Linked DNA regions of Homo sapiens: region 1 is linked to region 2. Evidence: fine-mapped expression QTL. A gene starts in region 2. The other region holds a variant in brackets. All regions are shown on one strand. Distances are between the middles of the regions. Region 1 overlaps MYO1D (myosin ID). Region 2 holds the start of CDK5R1 (cyclin dependent kinase 5 regulatory subunit 1).

The links. PIP is the estimated chance that this variant, and not a neighbour inherited with it, causes the effect. A credible set is the group of variants that fine-mapping cannot tell apart.
Region 1: its variant is the best candidate, but not a certain one, in a credible set for the expression of CDK5R1 in unexposed skin (GTEx, PIP 0.59).

Annotation. Positions count from the first base shown.
Region 1 is chr17:32,564,212-32,569,579 of GRCh38, forward strand. All of the region lies in intron 21 of MYO1D (myosin ID), which reads right to left. Among named protein-coding and RNA genes, the nearest start is that of CDK5R1, 80 kb to the left of the region's middle. RefSeq lists an enhancer at 5,344-5,368. The variant T/G (reference allele first, on the strand shown) is at 3,143.
Region 2 is chr17:32,484,126-32,489,493 of GRCh38, forward strand. CDK5R1 (cyclin dependent kinase 5 regulatory subunit 1) reads left to right here and starts at 2,868. Exons shown (of 2, transcript NM_003885.3): 1 at 2,868-3,037; 2 at 3,351-5,368. The coding sequence starts at 3,496. The coding sequence ends at 4,419. RefSeq lists enhancers at 1,654-2,155, 3,395-3,954 and silencers at 2,228-2,757, 2,868-3,127, 3,218-3,507.

The DNA of each region.
Region 1 (5,368 bases), 80 kb after region 2:
ATGCCCTCTGCTTCTTCCCCTTCATGAGTTGATCCATATGGGCTGAGAAGGGGGCTGTCAACTAGTAGGCAGATTTTCTTTACCCTCCCTCTGAAGTTTCTAATTACTCACACAAGTCTGGATGTGAAGCTGACATCAGCTTCCTTCACAGTGTCACCTGGGAAAATCTTGGTCAGCATGTGGTCCCTTTCCTTTCTAAGCCGACACCCTCTACTTAGCAATTATGAAGTGGCTTTACAGTCAGTGCTGGAGCATAGTGTACAGCCCAGGGTGAACCCTACACCATCCCTTCCCTTAACCAGAGCCTACTGACCTACCTGCTTTCCTTCCTTCCCTCTTTCGGTATTTATTTAGTGTTTCCTGTGCTAGGTGCTAGGGATGAGTCAAATATATTTATGACATGGTCCCTGTTCTCAATGAACTTGTGGTTTAATGGGGGAGATGGACTAAGTAGACAGACGACTACAAAGTAAGTGGCAAAGCAGCAGTGAGCACAAGACATAACAAAGAGCTGGAAGCCCTTCCACATAGCTGCACCTTTAACCCTGACTCTAAGGCATCAACTGAGGCTCCAAGCCATGTGGTGTTTACAGGGAAGAGTATAGGAACAAATCCCCATCAGGCCTGTCTGCATTTTGTGGTCACTGTTACAAAGGTCAATCTGTGTTAATTCTAGAAACAGCATACCCCCCATCTCACAATTACGTTAAACAGTCCATCACCCTTGATGATAACTCTTCCTGCTTCATAATGCATATAACTAGACATCATTTCATTATAAAGAAAAAGAAAATACTTTTTTTCTTTTTGGAGATGGCTTCTTGCTCTGTCACCCAGGCTGGAGTGTAGTGGCGCAATCTCAGCTCACTGCAACCTCTGCCTCCCAGGTTCAAGCGATTCTCTTGCCTCAGCTTCTGGAGTAGCTGGGACTACAGGTGTTCACCACCACATCCAGCTAATTTTTGTATTTTTAGTACAGACAGGGTTTCACCATGTTGGCCAGACTGGCCTCCAACTTCTGACCTCAGGTGATCCTCCTGCCTCGGCCTCCCAAAGTGCTGGGATTATAGGCGTGAGCCACCACACCCAGCCTGAAGAAAATACCTTCATGTGCAAAAACTGCTCCTTTAAGATAGGGTTCTTCCTTGTAGCAACGAAAGGCACCCTGGCACTGCTCACTTTTATGATGCAGCTCCCACCTCCATCCCCCTAAAACCTCACCTCTGGACCCTGGAGATATGACCTGGTGAAAGTGGCTGCTCAGATTCTGGAATCTATTCAGCCCTTAGCCCTCGATCATCTGCTTTGTCACCTCTGCTCTCAGGAGTGGCCAGTCTTCATATGGCCGGTGACATAATTGCTAAGTAGGCTGCTGTGAATGCCCATCTACTCAGGACTGAACTGAGCTAGGTCATGGCCATCAGTAAACATTATCAAGTAATGACTTTGTTACCACTGGCATCTGAACAGGAAGTCCAGATCTGAAGGTCAATTCCACACACCTGTTTCAGAGTGTGTGTGTTTTTTTTTTGAGACAGAGTCTCCATCTGTGGCTCAGGCTGGAGTGCAGTGGCGAGATCTTGCCTCACTGCAACCCCTCCCAGGTTCAAGTGATTCTCCTGCCTCAGCCTCCCAAGTAGCTGGGACTACAGGTGCGTGCCACCAGGTGTGGCTAATTTTTTTTTGTATTTTTCATAGAAACAGGGTTTCGCCATGTTGGCCAGGCTGGTCTTGAACTCCTGACCTCAGGCGATCCACCCACCTCAGCCTCCCAAAGTGCTGGGATTACAGATGTGAGCCACCGCACCCGGCCTTCAGAGTGTGTTTCTAGCTAAGATTGAATATATGCAGTGATAAGAAATCCATCTACAGCTTCCTATATATTCATTCAACACATAGTTCCTGTGCTTCTAGACGGGGAGGTAGACACAGTCCTCCCCTCATGTGCTCCTTATAACCCCCTGAAAGTGACAGATGTTAAATAAAAAAAAAGTATACGAAAAGGAAGTACAACTGTGGTGTTATGAAGGAGAAAACCAGAGTGCTAGAAGACGACACTAACATGAGGACTTAGACTTGTTTGAGGAGAGGGTCAGGAAAAGGCTTCCTTGGGAAAGTAGCATTTAAGCTGAAACCTGGAAGATGCACGGGGGCTTGGGGAAGAGGTTAGGAACAGCATTCCTGGCACAGGGCACGGCACCGGAGCTGTCTCTGAGGTAGGCAGTGAGGGGCTTTCCTTGAGGAAGCCAAGGAAAGCTGCTGTGGCCTGCAGGTGAGCCTGCAGGTAAGTGCAGGAAAATGCAGAGTGAGGAGGTGGGGCCACATCGTGTAGGCTGTGGGAGTGACCTCAGACCTGATCTTGAGTAGCCACTGAAGGAGGGGAGTGATATGATTGGAAAGTCAACTGAGTCCAACCACAGTTGGGAAAACATTTTTTGACTCGTGTCATTGGAACCAAATAGAATCAATTAATAGTAGTAACATGACAGTAGTTACGGTTGTTGTCCGAATCACAGGGAGTGCTAGAACTTAATTAGTTATCTGTTTGAAGCCTCAAACACAAACTTCCAAAGCTTTAAAAAGCAACTTGTAAAAGCTTCCCTCTTTGGTCTTTCTCTTTTAAGCTTCTTTTTAACCAAATCAGGCAGGCACTGTGTACCAAGCCTCTGAGACACATCTGTGTGATCTTTCCAACAGAGGAATGGGAGCCTCTGCATCCAAGGTGGGGAGCGGCAGAGCTGGGACTGAGGGCAGAACGGTTGATTCCAAAGCCCGTGCTCCATCCATGTTCACAGAATGGAGGAAATCAAAAAGGAGCAGATGATGCGGCTGCAGGCTTCTGGGATATTAACAGGACAAAGCTACTGAGAAAACAGGGGTTTCTGGCTGAAGGTAGAGGATGCTGGGAAAGGGCAACAAATGAAGGGGTGGCAGAAGTCAATAAATTGAGCAGGAAATGAAAAAAGAAGAGCTGAATTAGAGCATTTGTCTAAGCATCCTGAGGACAGGAACCTTGTTTATCCTGTTCATGGCTATATCCCTAGGGCAGAGAACACGACTCAGCAAGTGACATGTGCTCAAGAAATAGATGCTGACTCAGCGAATGAATGTATTTAAACAGAACCTATTCTGTAATAATCAC[T/G]ATGACAACAGTTAATAAAATCAGCCACCGTCAACTAAGCACCTACATGTGCCACACCTGTGCTGGGGGTTTGGCTAGGTTAACACAAACCCAACCACCAGGTACAGCAGGTGTTGTCGTCACAATCCTGGGAAGGAAATAAGGTACACAAAGGTTAAGTAACGTCTGATGTCTCTTGTCTAGTAAGTAGCAGGGATGGACTTAAACACAGACCAATCTCACTCCAAACCTTGTACTCTTTCTCTGCCCTGTGCTGTGTTGCTTCTCAAGCATGAACATGCTAAGAACTTGGGCTTCAGTCATGGCCAGTCCCTTCAGGATGACTTGGCCACTGTAGGGTCTCATTCTTTCATCATTCTTAGTCATCAAGTCCAAGTAGCCCTGGAAGAAGGGAGCATATGTGCACAGAAGGACACCTACAGGAAGCATCTTACCAAAAGTGCCTTGCATCATTGAGGCTGTGTCCGGGTAGTTCAGTGGTGCTAACGAGGCCACTGCTACAGGTTCAGTCTCCACGTCCAATTAACTCAGCTTTGTGCCTTGGAGACTACACCCCAATCCATCTCAGAGGTGCATTCAGTAGTTTCAGGAAAGATGGCTGGGAAGTGTGGGTGGCTTGGTGAAACCTATTTGCAAGACTAGCAAAACAATGCAAAAGGTATGCTGCAATAATGGTGAGCGGCAGCTTCCTAGAAAAAGGTCACGCAAACTTCTGCACCAAACCTGGGTGATCAGAGCTCCTCTGCAACATTAAGTCCTTTTTCCCAAAAGAGTCTTGAGATTTTTTCCCCCAGGTATTTATCAGAATCCTCTTTATCTTTCTGCGTTATTACAAAAAAAAAAAAAAAAGGCTGGTGTCAGGCAGCTAGCATTATTTCTGAAAATTACTGAGAACTTAAAAGACATTCAGAACATCTATGCAACTTGACACAGTTCAAAAAATTGTCATTGGAAACAGAGACAATCTTATAACCAACATTTAGGCAAGTCCATGTTTAGAATATGGTTAGTTTTCAAGGCAAGTATGTTTCATTCTACTTCTGTCTGTATGGAGAGATTCCGTCTCTAGTCTCATCCCTTTGCAAACTGTTTTTCTCATGGCTGCTGGAGTTATCTTTCCAGGACACATATCTGATTCATTCATTTGCTTTATATAACCTATCAACCCCCTTTGCACAGCTGTATAAGTCAGGTGTTTGTGGGACTTATCATCTATCTGGGACACTCTTGAGAGTTAAAGGACGCAGCTCTATTGATGATTATGTTGGAGCAACAGACATAAACCTTGGGAAACTGGGATCTGTGGTCACCTCACATGGAATAGAAGGTCCTTGGCAATCTGAACTGAACCCACATTTTCTGACTCTTCCCCACCCAGATCAGCCTCTGAGAGGGATCTGCCCTTTCCGTGCTTTCTGTCCCAGACCTCAGCCCTTCCAGCTTCTCTTCTGGAAGAGTGAGTGCACACACCTCCAGAGCAGCTCGAAGTGCAGTTGCACCTACTCACTGGAATTACAGGTCCAGCCTCTATGCTCCTATGCATCTTGACTGGACACAGTCATCATTTGTTTTTATGTGTATTGCCCTCTCTAGACTGGGAACTCCTTGAGGTTGGGGGGTTTAAGTCATCCTTGTGGCCACCCCCAATATGTAGAGGAGTGTTTTGTACATCCTTCGTGTTCAGAAACTGTCAGTTGATAATAAATAAATCCCACGACTAGATAATCTGGTGCCTTTTAAATAAATACATTGAGGTCTGTGTTATAAATAGATGTTTATGACTAAAATGTTTTATGGCAGAGCTGCTGACTGTCCTGGTGTCATAGAAACTTCAGCTGATTTCCATGTGAGTGTATGGAAGAAGTAATATATGAGCAATCTATTTTCTCTGGGTGAAGACAGCAATGGGCATATTTCACTTCCATTGTTAATTGGGGATAGTATTGCTCTAGGCCAAGACACTAAGTCAGCTAAGCGCTGACTAATCGAGGAAGTGTTTGCAGGTGCACTGGGCCCAAGGACACACAGGCCTCTTGTACTTTAACTTACATGTGGTGTTCTCAGACCTGCATGACCAATTCTGCAATAGTATCTGCCACAGAAAAGACACTGTGTGAAATTCTTGTGCAGCTCTTCCCCATCTAACCTGTTCCTCACAATGGTGAACACCCAGGGGAAGTGAAAGGAAGTGCCCCAGACTGAGACTGGGAACCGTCACCTCCCACT
Region 2 (5,368 bases):
AGAGGAGCTCTGTGGTGTCTGAAAACCAGCATAACAGGCATGGCCTGGGTGATAGGAGCTCCTGGAGACCCCTCCCTTAGTCGCAGCAGCAAGTGGGCTGCCAGTGCCATCCCATTCCTGCTGTGCTGCAACTGTGACTTTGCCTTGGGCAAGTGTGAGGAGGCTGGTGTTCTGCCGAGAGCTCTGTTTGAAGGTGCTAGGGAAAGGCTGGCTGGACAAAGGTGAGAAGACACAGGGTATGGCCTGGCTTGAAAAGGCCCATGCAGAGGCATGCTGCTGCAGAGTGGGAAGCAGGGTAGTGGGGTGAGCTTGGTCCGCCTCCCCGTGAATTGGAATAGCTAGAATTGAGATTGAGAGTTAAAGGTAACAGAGTGGGCCCAGGTTTTTCTAGGGGGTGGATTTTTCTTTTTTTAGCCGAAGTGTCACTCTGTCACCCAGGCTGGAATGCAGTGGCACAATCTCAGCTCACTGCAACCTCTGCCTCCCGGGTTCAAGCTATTCTCCTGCCTCAGCCTCCCGAGTAGCTGGGATTATAGGCACCCGCCACCACGCCCAGCTAATTTTTTTAGTAGAGACGGGTTTCACCATGTTGGCCAGGCTGGTCTCAAACTCCTGACCTCAGGTGATCCGCCCGCCTTGGCCTCTGAAACTGCTGGACACAGTGTGGCCATCACGCCTGGCCGGGGTGGATTATAGGCTTCAAAATTTGGACATATTTTGGGAAGTGGAAAACATTTAACCTTGGCTCAACACTAGAATCTGAAGGGGGGCACAGAGCCAACTCAGGAGCTAGAGGCTCCAAGTAAGGGCTGAGGAAAAGAGGCTGGGGTTCGGCTTTCCTTTGAGAAGGAAAAGGGACACTTGGTCAGGGTCTCGAAGCAAATCGTTTCTTCTGGCTTTTTTTTTTTTTTTTTTTTTTTTTTTGAGATGGAGTTTCGCTCTTGTTGCCCAGGCTGGAGTGCAATGGTGCAATCTCGGCCCACTGCAACCTCTGTCTCCCAGGTTCAAGCGATTCTCCTGCCTCAGCCTCCTGAGTAGCTGAGATTACAGGTGCCTGCCACCACGCCTGGCTAATTTTTTTTGTATTTTTAGTAGAGACGGGGTTTCACCATGTTGGCTAGGCTGGTCTCGAACTCCTGACCTCAGGTGATCCACCCGCCTCGGCCTCCCAAAATACTGGGATTACAAGCATGAGCCACTGCGTCGGCCTCTTCTGGCTTCTTACTGTTACATGCAGGAGGGTTGAGGACAGCTCCATTTGAAGAGCAGGTAGGCTTGTACACTGAGGAACATTCACAGGGAGGGGCGCACTGAGCTGGGGGCCTGCCTTCCTCTTCTGAGTTCCCATAACAGCTGTTGTGGATGTTCTGAAAGGCTGTGGACAAAGTAGCCCTCTGGGTACAGAGCAATGCATTTTCCACTGTATGCCTTGCCCCCCAAGGTTCCTAAAGCCTGGAATTCCTATTGACAGAAATCTGAGTGGCACATAAACAAAACCCAGCACTTTCTGCCTTGATTGCACCATTTTGAATGATGCCAGATTCCCTTTCTGTTCCCCCTAGGACAGTTGACAGGGCTGGTGAAAGCCTAGTCGGCTGGAGTGGTCAGGTAACTGGGTGGCATCCTCTCCTCTGGAGAGCCACTCCCTCATCTCTAGGTCCAGAGATAATCTGGATTAAGACAGGGCTTAAGTTTCCTGTTTCCCAGGTTTGTGGTCAGTTTTGACTCGATCTCCAGAAACAAGGTAAAATAGTAAATGAACAACAGCCTTTGTGAAGGATCTGGATTCACATCTGACAGGAACAGCTTTCAGAAACAGAATTTTACTCAATTTCGCTAGCATCAAGTTCTCAAATTATACATACTTAGAATTGAAAACGTTTAAGAGGGTCAGAAAGCTGGCCGGAGGGGCAGTTGCTTCAGCTTTAATATGACAAATAAGAGGGCGAGTGGGAACTTAGAGGTCATATTTGTGACGGGCTCAGGCTTGGCTACGGGCCACGCTTCTCTGGCTTGGATCTCTGAGGCCCACTTCGGCCGCGGTCATCTACCCATGATGAGGGAACGGAGGCCCCGGAGGGGTGGCCAGAACCGATTGGACTGTCCACTCGAGGTGCGCGTGGCACTCGGGAGGCCTCAGTAAAGGCGTCGCCTCTCCCCGCCCAGGGCCTTCTTCCCCGCGCTCCCTGGCTGCTTTCCACAGGGACGGGGATGTCAGGTGGAAGGAGGGAGCTCCGGACCCTGGCCTCGGCGGAGGGCTCCTCACCAGGCCAGGGCGGCAGCCTCAGAGAGGGCGGGCCGCGCGCTGCCAGGGCAGGGACTCGGCCGAGAGTGCCCCCGCGGCCGGCAGCTGCGGGCGCCGCGGCGGGAACAAAGGCAGCACGTGTCTGGGCGGGACGCGGGCGGGGTCGGCCCTCGGCTCCGCCCTGCTCGGCGCCCGCCCCGCGTCGGCAGAGTTGGGTTGCGCGGGCGCCGAGGACTCTCCGGCGGCCGGGCTGCTGTTGGGCGGCGGCGCGGAGCGGGCGGCGAGCTGTGCGGGAGGGGCGGCCCCGAGGGGCGGGGCGGGCCGACGCCGCGTGTCCCGCCGCAGCCGCGGAGTCCGGCTCCTAGATGGGGCCCGGCGCGTAGAGGTGCCTCCCGCTCGTTGCCGCGTCCTACCCGCACCGTGCGCGGCTCGAGCTGAGGACACCAACGGCCGCGACTCCCCGGCGAGACCAGGCCGGAGCGTGGACGGCGCGCGCGCCCCGCGAGGGAGGGCGCTGAGGCGCGCGCCGGAAGCGGGAGCGGGAGCGGGAGCGCGGCGGCGGCGGCGAAGGTGCGGGCGGCCGAGCGGGGGGCGGGGCTGCGGTGCCTGCAGAACCTTGGACAGAAGCTCCCTAGCTGCCGCCGCCGCCGCCGCCGCCGTCGCCGCCGCCGAGCGCGAGCCCAGCCGATCCCCGCCGAGCGCCCCCGAGCGCCGCCGAGCGCCGGGACCGCGGCGGCGGGGCCGCGGCGCGCATTGCGGAGGGCGCGGAGCGCAGGAGCTGCCGCCTGCCGGGTAAGCCTGCGCTGGGCGGCCGTCCTTGGCCCTGGGGAGCGGAGACCGGGGTCGCGCCCGTGCGGGGTGTCCAGGCGGGGGTCCTCGGCCGCCTCCGTCGGCGACCGGGCCCCTCCCGGCTGCGCCTGGGGACCGCAGCGGCGGCGGCGGGCGGGGGTGCTGCAGTGGAGGCGGCGAGGCTGCGTCGCGGGGGCGCGGGTAGGGCCCGGGACTGGGGCGGCGGGGTGCGCCGAGGCGCGGGGCGGAGGGGCGCAGGGGCGCAGGGGCGCGGCGCGGAGCCCAGCCTGGCGCTAAGAACCATCTTGTTTTCCAGGCAGATCCAAGGGGGCAGCACGCTTCCCGGGAGCGCCCCCGCCTCCTCTCCGGGGCCGCCGCAGGCTCGGTGAGCGGTTTTATCCCTCCGGCCGGCAGGCTGGGCGCGCAGGGGCGCGAGCCCCCGCCCGGCGCGCAGCAGCACCATGGGCACGGTGCTGTCCCTGTCTCCCAGCTACCGGAAGGCCACGCTGTTTGAGGATGGCGCGGCCACCGTGGGCCACTATACGGCCGTACAGAACAGCAAGAACGCCAAGGACAAGAACCTGAAGCGCCACTCCATCATCTCCGTGCTGCCTTGGAAGAGAATCGTGGCCGTGTCGGCCAAGAAGAAGAACTCCAAGAAGGTGCAGCCCAACAGCAGCTACCAGAACAACATCACGCACCTCAACAATGAGAACCTGAAGAAGTCGCTGTCGTGCGCCAACCTGTCCACATTCGCCCAGCCCCCACCGGCCCAGCCGCCTGCACCCCCGGCCAGCCAGCTCTCGGGTTCCCAGACCGGGGGCTCCTCCTCAGTCAAGAAAGCCCCTCACCCTGCCGTCACCTCCGCAGGGACGCCCAAACGGGTCATCGTCCAGGCGTCCACCAGTGAGCTGCTTCGCTGCCTGGGTGAGTTTCTCTGCCGCCGGTGCTACCGCCTGAAGCACCTGTCCCCCACGGACCCCGTGCTCTGGCTGCGCAGCGTGGACCGCTCGCTGCTTCTGCAGGGCTGGCAGGACCAGGGCTTCATCACGCCGGCCAACGTGGTCTTCCTCTACATGCTCTGCAGGGATGTTATCTCCTCCGAGGTGGGCTCGGATCACGAGCTCCAGGCCGTCCTGCTGACATGCCTGTACCTCTCCTACTCCTACATGGGCAACGAGATCTCCTACCCGCTCAAGCCCTTCCTGGTGGAGAGCTGCAAGGAGGCCTTTTGGGACCGTTGCCTCTCTGTCATCAACCTCATGAGCTCAAAGATGCTGCAGATAAATGCCGACCCACACTACTTCACACAGGTCTTCTCCGACCTGAAGAACGAGAGCGGCCAGGAGGACAAGAAGCGGCTCCTCCTAGGCCTGGATCGGTGAGCACTGTAGCCTGCGTCATGGCTCAAGGATTCAATGCATTTTTAAGAATTTATTATTAAATCAGTTTTGTGTACAGTATGTGTCTAGCAAAGCCACCAAGGGCCTCACCTTTCCCACAGTCTCTCCCTGGGGTTTTTTTCATCCCTGCCAAGAACTCTGGGCACTTTTGAACTCACGAGCCTTGCGCAAAACCCAGAAGATGTATTCAGAGCCACCCAGGCCACTGACCTCCCACTTTGGGGAACTCAAAGGACTGACCTGCCCCTGCCGCCTGTGCCCTTGCTGGGTCCAGGGTAGGCAAGGCTGCCGGCTGCACCCTGTATGGAGCTAGAGAGGGGCCTCTGGCTGCCTGGCCCAGGGAGGAATTGGGGTTTCTGGTTGGAGGCCCTTTTCTGGCTCCTGTGTGGAGTTATTCACTCTCCCAGAGGCTCCTGGAGCCAGCCACCCTAACTGAGCTGCCAGTGGGGTCGTGAGGCAAGATCCCCGCCACCCGGGGACATCTTCAATCTAGGCGAGGCGAAGCTGAGCGGGTCTAGTGGAAAGATTGTGTCTGGTCGTTTGACCACACACCGCCCTGATTTGCTGTTTTCTTTTTTTAGGGAGAAGGGCTTTTCTTTAGTGGAGAAATGGAACTCGCCCCCCTACCCCCTTGTCTGCTGCTCCCAGCCACGTTGGTGGTATTGGCCGATGAGCTGGTTTGACTCATTAATTTCTCTCAATTTGGGTCCCAGCTAAAGAGGTGGGGTGAAGCTGGGGACAGCTTTCCTGGGTGAGTTTTTCTTTTGAATAATGTAGTGCAGTCACCCTGTGGCAAATGCCAGGACAGCTGCAGGTGCCCATTAGCAACGCCTGCCTTCTGGGCAAGGTGAGGGATGCCATACCTTGAGACCAAGCCGGTGCCCACCTAAGGGCTAAGGCCTCTTGCTGGTGCACATGACATTTGTCCTGC